2 separate regions of the Homo sapiens genome follow, and region 2 is linked to region 1. A link means that fine-mapping ties the variant in region 1 to the expression of a gene that starts in the linked region. Tissue or cell type: lung. Region 1 holds a variant in brackets; the other region holds the start of a gene. All regions are shown on one strand. Distances are from middle to middle.

What was found. PIP is the estimated chance that this variant, and not a neighbour inherited with it, causes the effect.
Region 2: ACSM5 starts here. The variant in region 1 is fine-mapped to the expression of ACSM5 in lung (TOPMed, PIP 0.93).

What each region holds. Positions count from the first base shown.
Region 1 is chr16:20,468,682-20,476,867 of GRCh38, forward strand. ACSM2A (acyl-CoA synthetase medium chain family member 2A) reads left to right here. Exons shown (of 14, transcript NM_001308172.2): 4 at 831-1,038; 5 at 2,392-2,535; 6 at 2,855-3,008; 7 at 6,681-6,760; 8 at 6,969-7,092. Among named protein-coding and RNA genes, the nearest start is that of ACSM2A, 21 kb to the left of the region's middle. The variant GTGTT/G (reference allele first, on the strand shown) is at 3,380.
Region 2 is chr16:20,404,986-20,413,171 of GRCh38, forward strand. ACSM5 (acyl-CoA synthetase medium chain family member 5) reads left to right here and starts at 4,549. Exons shown (of 14, transcript NM_017888.3): 1 at 4,549-4,680; 2 at 6,485-6,703. The coding sequence starts at 6,500.

The sequences.
Region 1 (8,186 bases):
ATATTTTAATAATCAAAGGAGTCTCATTAAAATAGGAAACAAGAACAAGAATTTAGGAAAGTGATAATCATGGGGTATAAAACCTCATTTATGTGCAAGGAATAAGTCTAATGTTTTAAGATAAATTGTACAGCATGCTAAACACAGCTAATAATTCAGTACTGTAAATTTCAGTATCATTAAGAGCAAAACTTTCTAATGTTCTCATCACAAAAAAATGTTAAATACTTGAGGTGATGGATATGTGAATTAGCTTAATTTAATCATCTCACATTGTCTTCAAAAATTATAATACCACTTTGTACCCAATAAATATATACAACTATACTTTGTGTGTACATAGATATGTAAAACTGAAGGCACTCTCATCTAAGAAAAATGCATTTAATGTCCCAGGGATGAAATAAATTGCCAGGACCTAGAGCTATTGGTGTTTCAAGACCATGGACAGTTCCAAGTGCCTTTCCTCATGATTCTTTAATTATCATATGAGAGTTTTGAATACAGCAAACTCCTGTAGAAAATTTTTTTTGAGGGGTGAGAGTGGGTGAGGAGAATTGTATGTGTCTTAGACTATCAACAATGTGACATTAGCAATTCAATTTCTTTTCTTTGTCTCAGTAGGGCCCTTAAGACTCTGACAACCCAGGGAATCCTAGGTTTCATTCACTCCCTTGTCCTTAGTTCCCTTTTTTATTGACACTCTCTATTGGTCATTACTTCCTCATCCTCTCCTTCCCCACTTGCTCGCTGCTTGATGTTTATCTCAGGCTTCTCTAGGGACAAAGAAAATCATCCTTTCCAATTCTCTAAATTGTTGGCTTCTTTAGGTCTCATCTTTATGCCTGGAACCATCCAGATGAAATCCACTGACATACTGTATAGGTTGCAGATGTCTAAGGCCAAGGCTATTGTTGCTGGGGATGAAGTCATCCAAGAAGTGGACACAGTGGCATCTGAATGTCCTTCTCTGAGAATTAAGCTACTGGTGTCTGAGAAAAGCTGTGATGGGTGGCTGAACTTCAAGAAACTACTAAAGTGAGTATCTACATGTCTCAGCCTGGGTTTTAACTAAAACTGGAAACAGAGCCAAGCACTTAGGTGCAGGTGCTTTATTGAGGAGGTGCAGAAAGAACAGCATGGGACTAGGAAGAGTGAAGCTGGGAAGAAATAAAAGCTAACACAAGGGTATTTTTTTTTTTTTTTTTTTTTTTTCAAATCATTGCAAGGACTAAATGGGGCTTGATCTGCCTGGACCTTCTGAGCAGCATATAGAATGCCTCCCAGGATTGTCCTCTAAAGGATTGAAAAGCACTGATCCATTAGCATCTGGTCCCCACAGGTTCAGGGTTGTCCTGGGGGTGTTATTGCCTCCACACTTCTGGGCTGCGCACTCATGCGTGAAGAGTGGCTCAGAGTTCCATGCTATGGTAAAACAGAGAAACTATGGGGCACAAAGTGAATCACTTGTGATGCACACTGGAAACAACATGATGTTAACACCAAGTGGGTTGAAACCCACCCAGAACAATTTACTGGAACTATGACTCAAATCAGGGGTGAGGCCAAGGTCATGAGGGAAAACCCAAGAGATGGCTGATATACCAAGTTTCTGGGCTCTTCTTTCCACCTCTTGTATCTCTAAGAGAGGCTGATCAAGGGCAGAGGACTTTCCATGTGTTGATAGCATGGAAAGACCTTGATAGTCCTTCCAAAAGCCGATAGCAAGACTGGCTGGATTAATGATTTTCTCTGTCAACATGTCTGAAATCCCTCTAGCAGGGGCACATATGATAGGAAACTTGAAGGGATAACTTCAGCTTTTCCTTTCTAATGCCATGGTCTTTAAGGTAGCTGTCATGGAAATAAACACCATCATGCCTGCTTTTAAAGGCTCAAAATCAGGACACTGGAGATGTCCAAGAGATATGTAGGTGCTTCCAGGGAATAGAAGAGAATGCCAAGAAAGTACTTGGAAAACTTGTATTAATTCCACCCCTCCTGTCCACTTGGTGTCATGCCAGAGCTCTTCACAACAATTAGATTAGCATTTATTGAGTTCTTACTAAGCAATTTGCTCATTTCTTTGGTGGTAGAGATAACTCTATAAGACTTGATCTCACTTTTTTTGCAGATATAAAGTCAGACACAGAGACGTTAAATAAGTAGTTTAAGGTTGCATTGATAACAAAGTGTGAAACTTCAGTAGTTTTCAAACCCAACTCTGATTGACTCAGACTCCCATGATCTTAATCACTCAGCAGCCTCTCTTGTGAGGTGGGTCCATCAACTTGCCCTTTTCAGCACAGTGGGTGGTGGGAAAAGATGGGTCACTTTGATATCTGGTGTCCAGTCTAGCTCTGAAAAAATGACAATCTGTGTCTCTGTCAGTGAGGCATCCACCACTCATCACTGTGTGGAGACTGGAAGCCAGGAAGCATCTGCCATCTACTTCACTAGTGGGACCAGTGGTCTTCCCAAGATGGCAGAACATTCCTACTCGAGCCTGGGCCTCAAGGCCAAGATGGATGCTGGGTAAGCTGAGCTCTTTCTCTCTACAGAGAATTACATGAGTTTTGGAGTTAGAAGGAGAATGAGACCCAATTATATATTAAGTCAGGTCAACCGGGGTCCCACCTTCTGAACATTCATCTCCTGTTGATACAGGATGTGTGGATAGAACAACTTTTCTTCCCCCTTCCTACTTATACATAGACATATGCCTATAAACCTGCAGGCAGATACACACACACCTCTGCACACACACCTCCCTTTCCTCCCCTACACCTTAGTGTCCCACGCATCCTAAGCATGCACCCACCTATATGTACATGTGTTTTGTCTGTGTTTTCAGTTGGACAGGCCTGCAAGCCTCTGATATAATGTGGACCATATCAGACACAGGTTGGATACTGAACATCTTGTGCTCACTTATGGAACCTTGGGCATTAGGAGCATGCACATTTGTTCATCTCTTGCCAAAGTTTGACCCACTGGTTATTCTAAAGGTAAGAGAGGATCCAGTTTGCAGCAGTTATTCAGAGTGAGCCCGAGGTTTGCACACTTCAATTTATTGTAGTTTGTTTCAATTCATCTAATTTTTGCTAAACCCCTGCCATGTGGTGAACAGTGTTCAGTAAACGAGATGGAAATGGTCCCTGACCTCACAGAGCTCATGTTCTGGGGTAGGAGAGAGGCACATATATAGATAAAAGGAGTATGTTCAGGAGAAAGATATTGTAGGTCATTTGTTCACTCAACAAATGTAACGGGCTCTTCCGCTGGTGTCACCTATCAGATAGATGCTGGTGAACCACGTGTAAAAGGGAAAGCTGGAGTATTGGAGGGGATGCCATCTCGCTCTCATGAGTGTGTGTGT[GTGTT/G]TGTGAGTGCACATTTCATTTCCTTTTTTATTTGCAGCATAACACACAAACTGAAGGTAAAGTACACAGAGTGCCACCATCCTATGTGTACAGTTTGAAAATAATTTAGCTGTGTTAGATACTGTCTTAGTCAGCTTGGGCTACTATAATAAAATACCATAGTCTAGGTGGCTTAAATAACAGACATTTACTTCTCATAGCTCTGGAGGCTGTAAGTCTGAGATCAGGGTGCCAGCATAATTGGATTCCTGGGGAAGCCCTCTCTTCCTGGCTTGCTGATGGCTCCCTTACTGCTATATTCTCACATGGTTGAGAGAGACAGTGCTGGTATATCTTCCTTTTTACAAATAAAGGCACTCATGCTATCACTGGGGCACCTGCTTCATTACCTTGCATAATTACCCCTAAAAGCCCTGCCTCCAAATACCATCAAGTTGAGGGTTAGAGCTTTAATATAGGGATTTAGGTGGGGACACAACATCCAATTCATATCAGACACCCCTGTAAACACCACCAGATAAAGACATGAAACATTCCCACCACTGCAGAAGGTGTTCATACCCCTTCTCTGACAGCATCTGCCCCCCATAAGTTAATCATTCATTTGATACCTATCACCATAGATTAATTTTATCTCTTCTTGGAATTTCATGTAAATGGAGCCAAATTATATGTAATCTTTTGCATTTGGCTTCTTTTACTCAAAATATTCTCTGTGAGATTAGTCCACGTGTTGCATGTATCAGATGTTTGTTGTTTTAGCTGGCTGCAAAGTATTTCATTATGTGAATCTGTAAAAATGTTCCCCCATCCTATTGTTAATGAACTTTGGGTTATTTCCAATTTAAGATGGTTTTCTAGAAGCAATTCAGAAGAATAAATGGAATTTTTTCCTGTAGAACTTGATGGTACAGCCATTAAGTAAGACCCACAGACTGCAGCTATGCATTATCCTGTAGCAACAAAGCAATGAAAATGACCTCATTTTGCTTATGAAGATACACCCTATGTTGGACTCTATGATAGAGGGATTGGGTTATTTCCCTGCTGTGCCCCCAGATCTCTAATGGCCCATCCAGACATCTATTTGGCTGCAGCAAAGGTTCAAGCTAAGGCATAGATGACATCTTCAAAAGTCAAAAAGTCAGGTGTGATCTGGATTTTCATAGGAAATTATCTTCAAATAATACTGTCATTCTCTGTTTTAAGCAAATTCTTACTCTGTGTCCTTCTCAAAAGGACTTGAACTGGTTTTTATTAAGTTCCACCATTAAAAAAATGAAAACAGACATAAAATTATAAAGCCCATTGGGAAAATTTAGGTTGGAGGTGTAGGGTGGAAAAGACTAAGGAAATTAAGGAGAAATATAGCAAATGAGTATGTAGTTACAAGCTGAGCTTCTAGTAAGGCAAAGCAATAAGGAATATGGGATCATTTTCATAGCTTATATCTGTGTATCAAGCACACTTGAAGGAAATTATTGCATGATACTCACATTTGTCATTTTTTCTAGACCTTTTGCTTAAACCATTGCCATGGTTTGAATATTTGTGCCCCCCAAAACTCATGATGAAACTTGTAAACCAAAAATAAAATCCTAAGGCCCCATCCCGCCAGCCATCTGAATGGACTTCCTCCTTAGCCAGGGTTCTTTTAAAATTTAACCTGAGAGACTGTTTCAGGCCATGATAGGAAGTGGGAGTGGGACATGCCTCATTATACCTCTCTGGTATTAACATCAATACAGACTTTAAGTCTGATTAAAAAAAAAAGATTACAACCTGTTCTGTCTAAAGCCTAGTGCCAGTACCTAAAAGCTTCCTCTGCAAATAAGAACTTGGGTCTCCACAATTATTTATCTTAACTAAGGCATTCCTTTCTATTGATCCCAGGTCTTTAGATAAACTCAACCAATTGTCAACCAGAAAAATTTAAATCTACCTATAAGCTGGAAGCCCCCGCTTCAAGTTGCCCCACCTTTCTGGACCAAACCAATGTATTTTTTAAATGTGTTTGATTGATGTCTTATGTCTCCCTAAAATGTATAAAACCAAGGTGCACCCTGACCAATTTGGGCACGTGTTCTCAGGACATCCTGAGGGCTCTGTCATGGCCATGGTCACTCATGTTTGGCTCAGAATAAATCTCTTCAAATGTTTTACAGAGTTTGGCTCCTTTCATCAACAAACTCAATCCCCAGTGTAACAGTAGTAAGCGGTGGGGCATTTAAGAGATGATTGGGCCTCATGAGGGATTAATGGATTAATGGGTTATCCTGTTAGTGGGTTAGTTTTGGAGAGTGGGTCTGTTATATAAAAAGCCAGTTTTGCTCTACCTCGTGAGCCCCTTTACAATGTGATGCCCCGACCCTCCTTGGGACTCTGCGGAGTCCCCAACAGCAAGAAGGCTCTCACCAGATGCAGCTTCTTGACCTTGGACTTTCCAGCCCCTAGAACTGCAAGAAATAAATTTATTTTCTTCATAAATTACTCAGTCTCCGGTACTCAGTTACAGCAAAAGAAAACAGATTAAGACAATACTCTATTACATTCTGCATAAAGAAAAGCATGGGATGGAGATGGTGTTATACGACAGGAATACATGCTGCAAATAATGATCCCACTACTTGCTGACTAGGTGACCTTGGAGCAGCTACTTAACCTTGTACATCATGGGTTTCCCCTCTGTATCATGAGGATGATAGCACACACTCCGTGAGGTTATTGTAAAAATTAAATGAGATAACACAGGACATGGCAAGTATTCAGTACTAGGTCTTTTTGCAGCACTTGTTTTGAAATGTCTATAGATGTCTTTAGCTTTTCAAAGAACTTTTATATCTAAAATATATTCCAAAAATATTTTCAGGAAAATAAGGCTGGAAACAATCTATTATAAAGCTGGCTACAGAAAGTTAAGGAACTTAACCAAGACAGCTGCTGTGCTCAGGCAGCTGATCTTCCCTTAGTTGCTGGGGGGTGATCTACTCCTAGGGGTGTGTTAACGAGGGCAAGTCTTAAACTGGCAGGAACAGACATCCAGGATTTGACAAAAATGTTTCAAATTAGCCTTAGACTTTTTCACTACAATAATATGTATTCATTTCCCTGTTATTTGTGTCTTCAGGGTGCATGAGAGTTGTGGGGCTCATTTAACCTGAATCAGACATAGTAAACAAGCTAGGGTTTTCATCCAGACCTCTACAACTCCATAGCTCACAATTGTAACCACTGTGCATAGCCATAAGTTGGCATTTGACCTGGTGACCAATGTCTCACCTGGCTCTTGTCTTCCAGACACTCTCCAGTTATCCAATCAAGAGTATGATGGGTGCCCCCATTGTTTACCGGATGTTGCTACAGCAGGATCTTTCCAGGTGATGGGGCTTTGAGGATTGGTAAGAGAGTCTGGCCCCATCCCCCTGACTCCCTCACATACATTCATGCCTATCTATCTGAATCTCTCGCACACAGAGAGCCCCATGAAGCCATTTGCATCATCAAAGCACCCAGAAACCCAGTCTAGGCCTGAGTGGACTTTGGTTCCAGGGAGGCTGAGGGCAAACATTTATTTCTCTTCTTCAGTTACAAGTTCCCCCATCTACAGAACTGCGTCACTGTAGGGGAGTCCCTTCTTCCAGAAACTCTGGAGAACTGGAGGGCCCAGACAGGACTGGACATCCGAGAATCCTATGGCCAGACAGAAACGGTACCTGTTCCCAGGGGAACCATGGGCTGTGTGCACTTTTTGGGCTTCAAAATTCTCTTTGACAATAAAAATTGTTAGCCACCATGTATCATTCATCTATTCGAGAAGTATTTATTGAGCCTCTATGAAGGGACAGGTACTGAGTATTGAAAATTCCGCACAGAACAAAAAAGGCAAAGTTCCTGTTTTCTGGGAGATTACATTCCAGTGAGATTTGGGGAGAGAGAAAATAAACTAAGAAATATCTAGCATGGCAGGTGGTGAGAAATGCGATGGAAAAAGTAAAGTAGATGACATGGGGTGAGAAGTTGGTAAATCAGATATGGTAGTCAGAAAATTCCTCTGTGATGGGGAAACATTTTAGCAGAGACCAAAGTTTATCAAACATGTCAAGCACTGTACAAAGCTACTTAGACTGAAGTGAGGAATGGGAAGAAGAACCCACCATGACTTTACTGCACCTCCTGACATATCTTCTTGGAACTCTTGAGGTCTCATGTGCACAATGTGGATTTATGCTATTCTATACTATTTTACTTATCAAAACTACATGGGGAATACTTTTCCCCAACTCTTCTTCTCCTTTTTCCAGTGCCTCTTACTTGTGACTCTCAGCACTTCTTGCCTCTTCCTCTCCACTCTCTTACCCTGCATCCTTCTTTGGCTAATGAGTACCCTTGGAAGAACTTTTGCAGAAGGTTGACGGCAGCTCTGTGGTATGAAAGAGCCAGGAAGAGCTCTGCAAATATGAATAAGGACAATGGAGTTGTGGCAAGCATACCCTGGCAGGGGCCTCCCACCATTCAGAGGAGGACATGTTTAGGATATGCTTACAAGGACACTCAGGTTCCCATGATCTTAATCACTCAGCAGCCTCTCTTCTGAGGTGGGTGGATAAACTTGCCCTTTCCAGCACAGTGGGTGGCGGGAAAAGATGGGTCATTGTGATATCTTTTGTCCAGGCTAGATCTGAGAAAATGACAATCTATGTCTCTGTCAGTGAGGCATCCACCACTCATTTGTTATTCTGTTGGGAAGGTTCATTTCAGGGTTCAAGCAGAACTGGTGCTGCCATGGGAGATACTTTAAAAAGT
Region 2 (8,186 bases), 64 kb before region 1:
AGTTTCCATGCCTGTTACATGGCATCTAACTCATGGGGGTGTTGTAAGCAAAGTAAATTATGTGGAATTTAGAAGATAATTAATGATATGAAGAAAAATAAAACCTGGAAGGATGATGAGGAACGCCTGAGAGGGGGATGGGATAAAATAAGAGGATTTATGCAAAACGAGCAGCTCAGTACCTAGAAGGCAGGAGCCCCTCACGCATCACCACCCTGGCCTCATCTCCTAGGGGAGAAAGATCTCCACTCACCCTGCTCCAGCCACACTGGTGTCCCTGCCAGTCCTCCAATACAATGTCTGGGCCTCTACACTTGTGGTTTCCCCTGTTAGGGAGGCTCTTCACCCAGGTGGACTCAGGGTTCACCCCTTAGCTCGTTCCAGTCTTTGCCCAAATGTCACTTCCACAGTTGGGCCTTTCCTGGCCACTTTGTTTAAATTTGTAAGTGCCCCATCCCCCTCTCAGGCGTTCCTCATCCTCCTTCCAGGCTTTATTTTCCTTCATAGCATTAATTTTCTTCTAAACTCCACATAATTTACTTTGCTTACCTGGTGATAGGTGCTCAGTAAATATTTGTTGAATGAATAAAGAAAAGGCTGTTGATATTATTAGCATCGTTATTACTGTCAGAGTTTGCAGCCTTTGGCTATCTGCTGCCCAACTGTTATTAAATACTGATGGAGATGACTAACATTCATTTCACTAAATTTTAACATCTGTGGGTTTTAGTCCTAGCGCTTTGCTCTTCTCTTTCTTTTCTTTTTCTTTGAGACAGTGTAGTGGCGCGATCTCCACTCACTGTAGCCTTCACCTCCAGGGTTCAAGCGGTTCTCCTGCCTCAGCCTCCTGAGTAGCTGGGACTACAGGCATGCACCACCACGTCTGGCTAATTTTTGTATTTTTAGTAGAGACGGGGTTTCACCACATTGGCCAGGTCGGTCTCAAACTCCTGACCTCAAATGATCTGCCTGCCTCGGCCTCCCAAAGTGCTGGGATTACAGGCGTGAGCCACGGCATGCGGCCCCACTCTTCTCTTTCCATACTTAACTTCCATACTTTTGTTGGCTTGTTTAAATGCATGACTTCAAATACACCCCTTTATAAGTTACTCTCTCATTTACTCTCCAGGATTTGATCAATTGATTACATTTACTATTAAGACCGTTTTCCATCTGCCTATTAGAAAAGCTCTTTTTGGTTGAACCACACTCACTGAATATCTGAATGTCTTAATTTGAACTCATCATGTCCCTTTCAACTTTTCTTGGCAATTATTCCTTTTCTGGATGTTGTGTTTGCAAATAATTCCTGGGATGTGTTTGACTCTTTTTTCTCCCAGGCCTAAATCAACAATCTAGTCTGGCATATATTATTTTGACATCTTTCACACTTGTCAACTGTTAGTCACAAACTAAAACACTTGGGTTATTATCCCAAATGTCCTTCATTCATTTTCCTTCACTCTTGCACACAGTTGTTTCTTGACATAACATAGGCACTTTTATGATGATACTCATTTACTGATAAAGCTGCTGCTGCTTTTTTTTTTTTTGACAGAGTCTTGCTCTCTTGCCCAGGCTGGGGTGCAGTGGTGCAATCTTGGCTCACTGCAACCTCCGCCTCCTGAGTTCAAGTAATTCTCCTGCCTCAGCCTCCTGAGTAACTGGGATTACAGGCATGCACCACCACGGCCGGCTAATTTTTGTATTTTTAGTAGAGACGAGGTTTCACCATTTTGGCCAAACTGGTCTCAAACGCCTGACCTCAGGTGATCCACCTACCTCGGCCTCCCAAAGTGCTGGGATTACAGGCGTGAGCCACTGTGCCCGGCTTAAAGCTTCTTTTTATAAAATAACATTAATTTCTTTCTGATTAGAAAAGAACAGGATTTAATTTCTAAAACATAGAACATACAGAAAAAATGAGTTAATTGAAATCATACATCATCTTACTTAGAGAAACATTCATATTTTGTTACGTATGGGATTAATATATACTTTTTAAAAATAAAATTGTGATTATATTGTCTATAAAGTGTATCCAGTTCTTTCATTGAACATTTATGAAACATTTGTCATGACTTATGATTATATATTCTTCTAAAAAGTACTGATTGAGAGTAACGATATTGAGATTAGACTGCTGGAGAAATAATGTTCAACAGTCCGTCCACCCCTCTGAGGGTAGAGATTGTATCTTTACATCTGGCTGCAGATTCAGAGATGAGGTTGTATCCTGGGTCGCAGTAGAGGACTGAATGCTGAGCAAATGGACATTGAGGGCTCATAAGATGGTTCCCTGTGGCCAAGCTTGGCGGCAAGGGAGAGGAGCTGCCTGCGTGGAAATGGGCCAAACTGGCCAGGCCAGGAAATGAGACAGAGTCACAGGGGAACAACATACAGTGATGGATAAAAATCCAGGGTGAAGTTTGAATCACTGCAAAGATAGGCAGTTAATGGCTCAGCATCCTCTCTATAGGACACCCATAACCCTGTCATTTGCAACAACATGGATGGAACTGGAAGTCATTACATTAAGGGAAGTAAGCCAGGCATAGAAAGCAAACATTGCACATTCTCGCTTACCTGTGGGAGCTAAACAGGAAAACAAATGAACTCATGGAGACAGTAGAAGGACGGTTACCAGAGGCTGGAAAGTGTTGCAGGGAGTTGGAGGAGAAGTGGGGATGGTTAATGGGTACAAAAAAGTAGTAAGAGTGAATGAATAAGGCCTAGTATTTCCTAGCACAATAGGATGACTATCTTCAAAAATAATGTAACCATACACCTAAAATAACTACAATAGTATAAATGGATTGTTTGTAACACAAAGGATAAATGTTTGAGGTGATGGACACCCCATTTACCCTGATGTGATTCTAACGCATTGCATGCCTGTATCAAAATATCTCATGTAACCCATAAATGTATATACCTACTATGTACCCACAAAAATTAAAAATAATTTAAAAAGAACTTCAGAGAACAAACAACAAAAAGACCGGTATGGCTGGAGCAGACTGAGACAGGAGGTTTGAGGCGAAAGGCTCACAGGAATTCCTGTGGGGCCCTGTAGGCAATTGCCAGGACTTTTTTTTTTTTTTTGAGACGGAGTCTCACTCTGTCTCCCAGGCTGGAGTGCAGTGGCACGATCTCGGCTCACTGCAACCTGTGCCTCCCAGGTTCATGCCATTCTCCTGCCTCAGCCTCCAGAGTAGCTGGGACTACAGGCGCCCACCAGAGTAGCTGGGACTACAGGCGCCACCACGCCTGACTAATTTTTGTATTTTTAGTAGAGACAGGGTTTCGCCGTGTTAGTCAGGATGGTCTCAATCTTCAGACCTCGTGATCCGCCCGCCTTGGCCTCCCAAAGTGTTGGGATTACAGGCGTGAGCCATCCCACCCGGCAATCGTCAGGACTTTGGCTTGGACTGTGAGTGAGATAGGGAGTTGCAGGAAGCTTTTTCGAAAAACCACCTTTGGGCCAGGTGCAGTGGCTCCCACCTATAATCCCAGCACTTTGGGAGGCCAAAGCAGGCAGATCACTTAAGGTCAGGAATTTGAGACCAACCTGGCCAACATGTTGAAACCCCATCTCTACCAAAAAAATACAAAAATTAGCCAGGCATGGTGGTGCATGCCTATATTCCCCGCTACTCGGGAGGTTGAGGTGGGAGGATCGCTTGAACCCGGGAGGTGGAGGTTGCAGTGAGCCAAGATTGCGCCACTGCACTCCAGCCTGGGCGACAGAGCAAGAGCCTGTCTCCAAAAACAAACAAAAAAACCCAAAAAACTTCTTTTGGCAGTGTACAATTATTATTACTATTTTTTGTAGTAAATTTACAGAGATCTGCAGTCATGACCACAATCCAAATTTAGAACAATTCTATGACTTCAAAGGGATGCCTTAGAGCCGTTCCCTGGAACCACTCCTCTGTTCTCTCTGTATCTACTGGAGGGTTCTAAGCAGAAAAGAAACAAAGTCTGACTTATATTATTATCACTATTGCACCTTTTCTGTTAAAACATCATAATCCCAGCACTTTGGGAGGCCGAGGCGGGCGGATCACGAGGTCAGGAGATCGAGACCGTCCTGGCTAACACGGTGAAACCCCGTCTCTACTAAAAAATACAAAAAATTAGCCGGGCATGGTGGTGGGCGCCTGTAGTCCCAGCTACTCGGGAGCCTGAGGCAGGAGAATGGCGCAAACCCGGGAGGTAGAGCTTGGGGTGAGCCAAGATCGCGCCACTGCACTCCAGCCTGGGCCACAGAGGGAGACTCCGTCTCAAAACAAACAAACAAACAAAAAAAAAAACCCGTCATAATCTTCCTGTTGCTTTTTCCGATTAGATGGCGACTTGAATTTTTAGGGAATACATCCACCAGTTTGGGCACACCCACCAGGCACGACAGTTGAGGTCTGATCTTCCAGCCACTGTGAGTACTGAGAAAACTTGGCAGGGGGCCACTCTCACTGGCTCAATGCACCCTGACCACTGGAAGCCACTGTGTCAGCTGCTGGGTTCTGGCTCTGCCCACTCTTGGCTGCATTTGGGGCTGAAGTTCCCTGTGGGAGGCTGTTTTCTGAGGGAGCTGAGTGTTTACAGCCACTCAGCCCTGCTCTGCTCAGCTGAAGCAGAAAACAGAGACCTTTTGCATTACTTTGGTTCAAGAGCAAGGTAATTTGGAAAGAAATTTTTCAGACGAAGGTATCAGCTGCCTCTGAGGCCTTTGCTGATTAAATCAAGAAGTGACATCTGAAATGGTGTCGGGGAATGGGAAGGAGGCCTGGGGATTCTAAATTATCAGCTGTTTAGGTGGCTGAGGAATCCAGGGGTGGGAGACTGAGGAAAAGGACTGGGGCAGAGCTCAGTTCAGGAGAGGTGAGGGGCGGGAGAGGTGAGGGGCGGGAGAGGTGAGGGGCGGGAGAGGTGAGGGGCGGGAGAGGTGGGTCAGAGAAAGGAAGTCTCTGAGGCTGCAGGCCTAGGCCTGGTGGCCACTGCAGAGGCTGGGGCCTATGTTTTTCCAGGAAGTGAAACCTGAAAGTCACTTTTCCCCTTTAAGCCTCATTTTCTTTATCTTTAAATGGAGAAAATAACATTTACAGCATAGAGTTGTTATAAAGATTTCATGAAATAATGCCTCTAAGCACTCTTAAAATGCTTGGTACACAGTAGGCCTTCAATAGACTGAAGCTGTTATGGTTTTTCTTGTTGTGCCACGTTATTATTGTTGGTTGTTATTACCATATTTTGTTATTATTATTACTAAGAGGAATTTAATGCAAGGAAACTGAAACTGAGGTCACACGCAGCTCCCGGGCCAGTGCCTCTCAAACTTTAACATGCATATGACTCATCTGAAGATCCCGTTAACTTGCAGATTCTAATTCTACATATGTAGGGTGGGGTCCCATCTGCTGGTCCCAAGATCACACTTTGAGTAGCAAGACACTAAAACTGGGCTGGGCACAGTGGCTCACATCTGTAATCCCAGCACTTGGGAGGCCGAGTTGGGAGGATCACTTGAGGCCAGGGGTTCAAGCCCTGCCTGGGCAACATAGTGAGATCCTGTTTCTACAAAAAAACTTTTTAAAAGTTAGCCACACATGGTGGCTAGTGCCTGTAGTCCCAGCTACTAGGAAGCCTGGGGTGGAAGGACTGCTTGAGTTTGAGGCTGCAGTGAGCTATGATGGCACCACCGTACTCTAGCCTGGGCAGCAGAGTGAGACTCTGTCTCAAAAACAACAATAATAAAAATTTTAAAAATAATAAAATTAAATAAAAAAATTAAAAAGACACTAAAAGCCCATCATGCCATACAGCAGCCACTTGTGGCTTTTGAGCACTTGAAGTGTGGCTAGTCCAAATTGACATGTGTTTGTAAGGGTAAAGTCTATTTCAGATTGTGAGGACTTAGTACCAAAAAAAACAAAAAATAAATAAAAGTATGTAAAATATCTCTTTAACAATTTATTCTTCTATTGACTAGGAATTGAAATGGTCATACTTTGGCTCTATCTGGTTAAATAAAATGTTTTATTATAATAAATCTCACCTGCTTCTACTTTTCTTAATGGAAGTACTAGAACATTGTAAATTGCACAGGTGGCTCACGTTCTATTTCTGTTGGACAGTGCTGCCCTAGAGCTGTCTTCAGCTTTGCAAGGTCAGTTCAGGATTGGCCAAAGCCTTTTTGAGGGATTCCTTTTGAAGTATTGAGGTTTGAGAAGTGGGATCTGAGTTCTGACCTCAGACCCAGATACCCACAAGTCAGTGAGAGGTCAAAAGGACAGACCTCGGGGTCAGAGGAGAGAAATGACCATCACACAGCAGAACTGAGACTGAAGGTGGAGAGTTTATTCTACAAGTCAGTAAGGATCACAGTCACCATCAGCACTAACCACAGGTTTCTCCTAACCTATGTGTTGTCCCCAAAGCCCAGAATTTATGACAATGCCCTCTTTCCTCTCTTTGGTGACAGACAGGAGGCGACTGCATGAGACCATGGCTGAGACACCTAGTCCTCCAGGCACTGAGGAACTCCAGGGCATTCTGTGGGTCTCATGGGAAGCCAGCACCTCTACCTGTTCCTCAGAAGATCGTGGCCACCTGGGAAGCCATCAGCCTGGGAAGGCAGCTGGTGCCTGAGTACTTCAACTTCGCCCATGATGTGCTGGATGTGTGGAGTCGGCTGGAAGAGGTGAAGCCTGTTCTGTCCTAGAGTCCATCTGGGGCATCTGAGGCTGCCCTCATGTACCACAATGAGACTCAAGGCTCCAAGCATGTTGATGAGGAAATTTGGACCTGGGAATTTTGCTAGTTCTAAAATGTAAACTGTTGGCATTTGAGACTTAGGAAAAAATTCTGAGTCAGTGTTGTGAGCCTTAGACATGCTTGTTCCTTCTCTGAAGTGTCCTGCATTCTTGAGCCCAAATCACACAGTGAGACAGTTATGTCCCTTCCGATTCCCTTCCAGTTGTTCATCAACTGAAGGAGGAAGTTTTGTTTTGCTGCTACTCTGTCTTTGATGTTTTTCTCTCACTGTCACGCCCTTCTCTTCTAAATAAGGAAAGAAGGCCGGGCGCGGTGGCTCATGACCATAATCCCAGCACTTTGGGACACCGAGAAGGGCAGATCACCTGAGGTCAGGAGTTCGAGACCACCCTCACCAACATGGTGAAACTCCGTCTCTACTAAAAATAAAATAAAAAAAAATTACCCAGGCATGGTGGCGCACACCTGTAGTCCCAGCTACTTTGGAGGCTGAAGCATGAGAATTGCTTGAACTCGGGAGGCAGAGGTTGCAGTGAGCCAAGATCATGCCACTGCACTCCAGCCTAGACAACAGAGTGAGACTCCACCTCAAAAAATAAAATAAAATACAACAAAACAAAATAAAATAAGGAAAGAATAGGGCTCAGGCTCAAAGCTTTTTGCAGATCATAACAGATACATAGAATTGAATAAGATAACCCTGATTTCTTTGTGTGTCTCTGTGCATCTGCTTTCTTCTTTATTTTCCCTTATATCTGTGTCTGTTGGGTCTCTCTATTTCATGGTTACCTTTTATTTGTGTTACATGATACTAACTTTTCATTTATAAGAGGAAGACATACTTCTAAAACTGTATTTCAACCAATGTGAAGCTTAACCAATGAGAAAAGCCTTTTCCCTAGGGGTTTTTGTCCAAAACAATTACGGACAAATGTTTAACTTCATTGTTGCCTAAGGTGGTGGATAACAGTAGGCACAAACAATAGATTCACCAAAAAGTGAAAAAAGAAAAGCTGGAGAATACAAAACTGGAAATATAAAATTTAATTCAAAGAATTGTATTCATGTTAATTATAAGAAGAGATTGTTTAAAGAAAAAATATGAAGTAAATGGCATTGTTAGTAGATACAATAAAATTAACTGTCAGCAGATGTAGTGAAACTTATGAAGGTGGTATGAGGATGACTGAGACTTAAAAGCAGGATTTGCAGTCAGATAGACATTGTTCATCCGTGTACTTGAAGTGTGACCTTGGACAAGTGCCCTAAGTTCTTTAGATCTCAACTTTCTCATCTGTAAAATGGTAGTCAGACCATATGCTACTTAGAGTAATAGTGAGAATTAAATGAGAATTGCATGTAAGACATGAAGCCAGGATGCTCCATTCCTGATGGCCTGCAAAAATCTA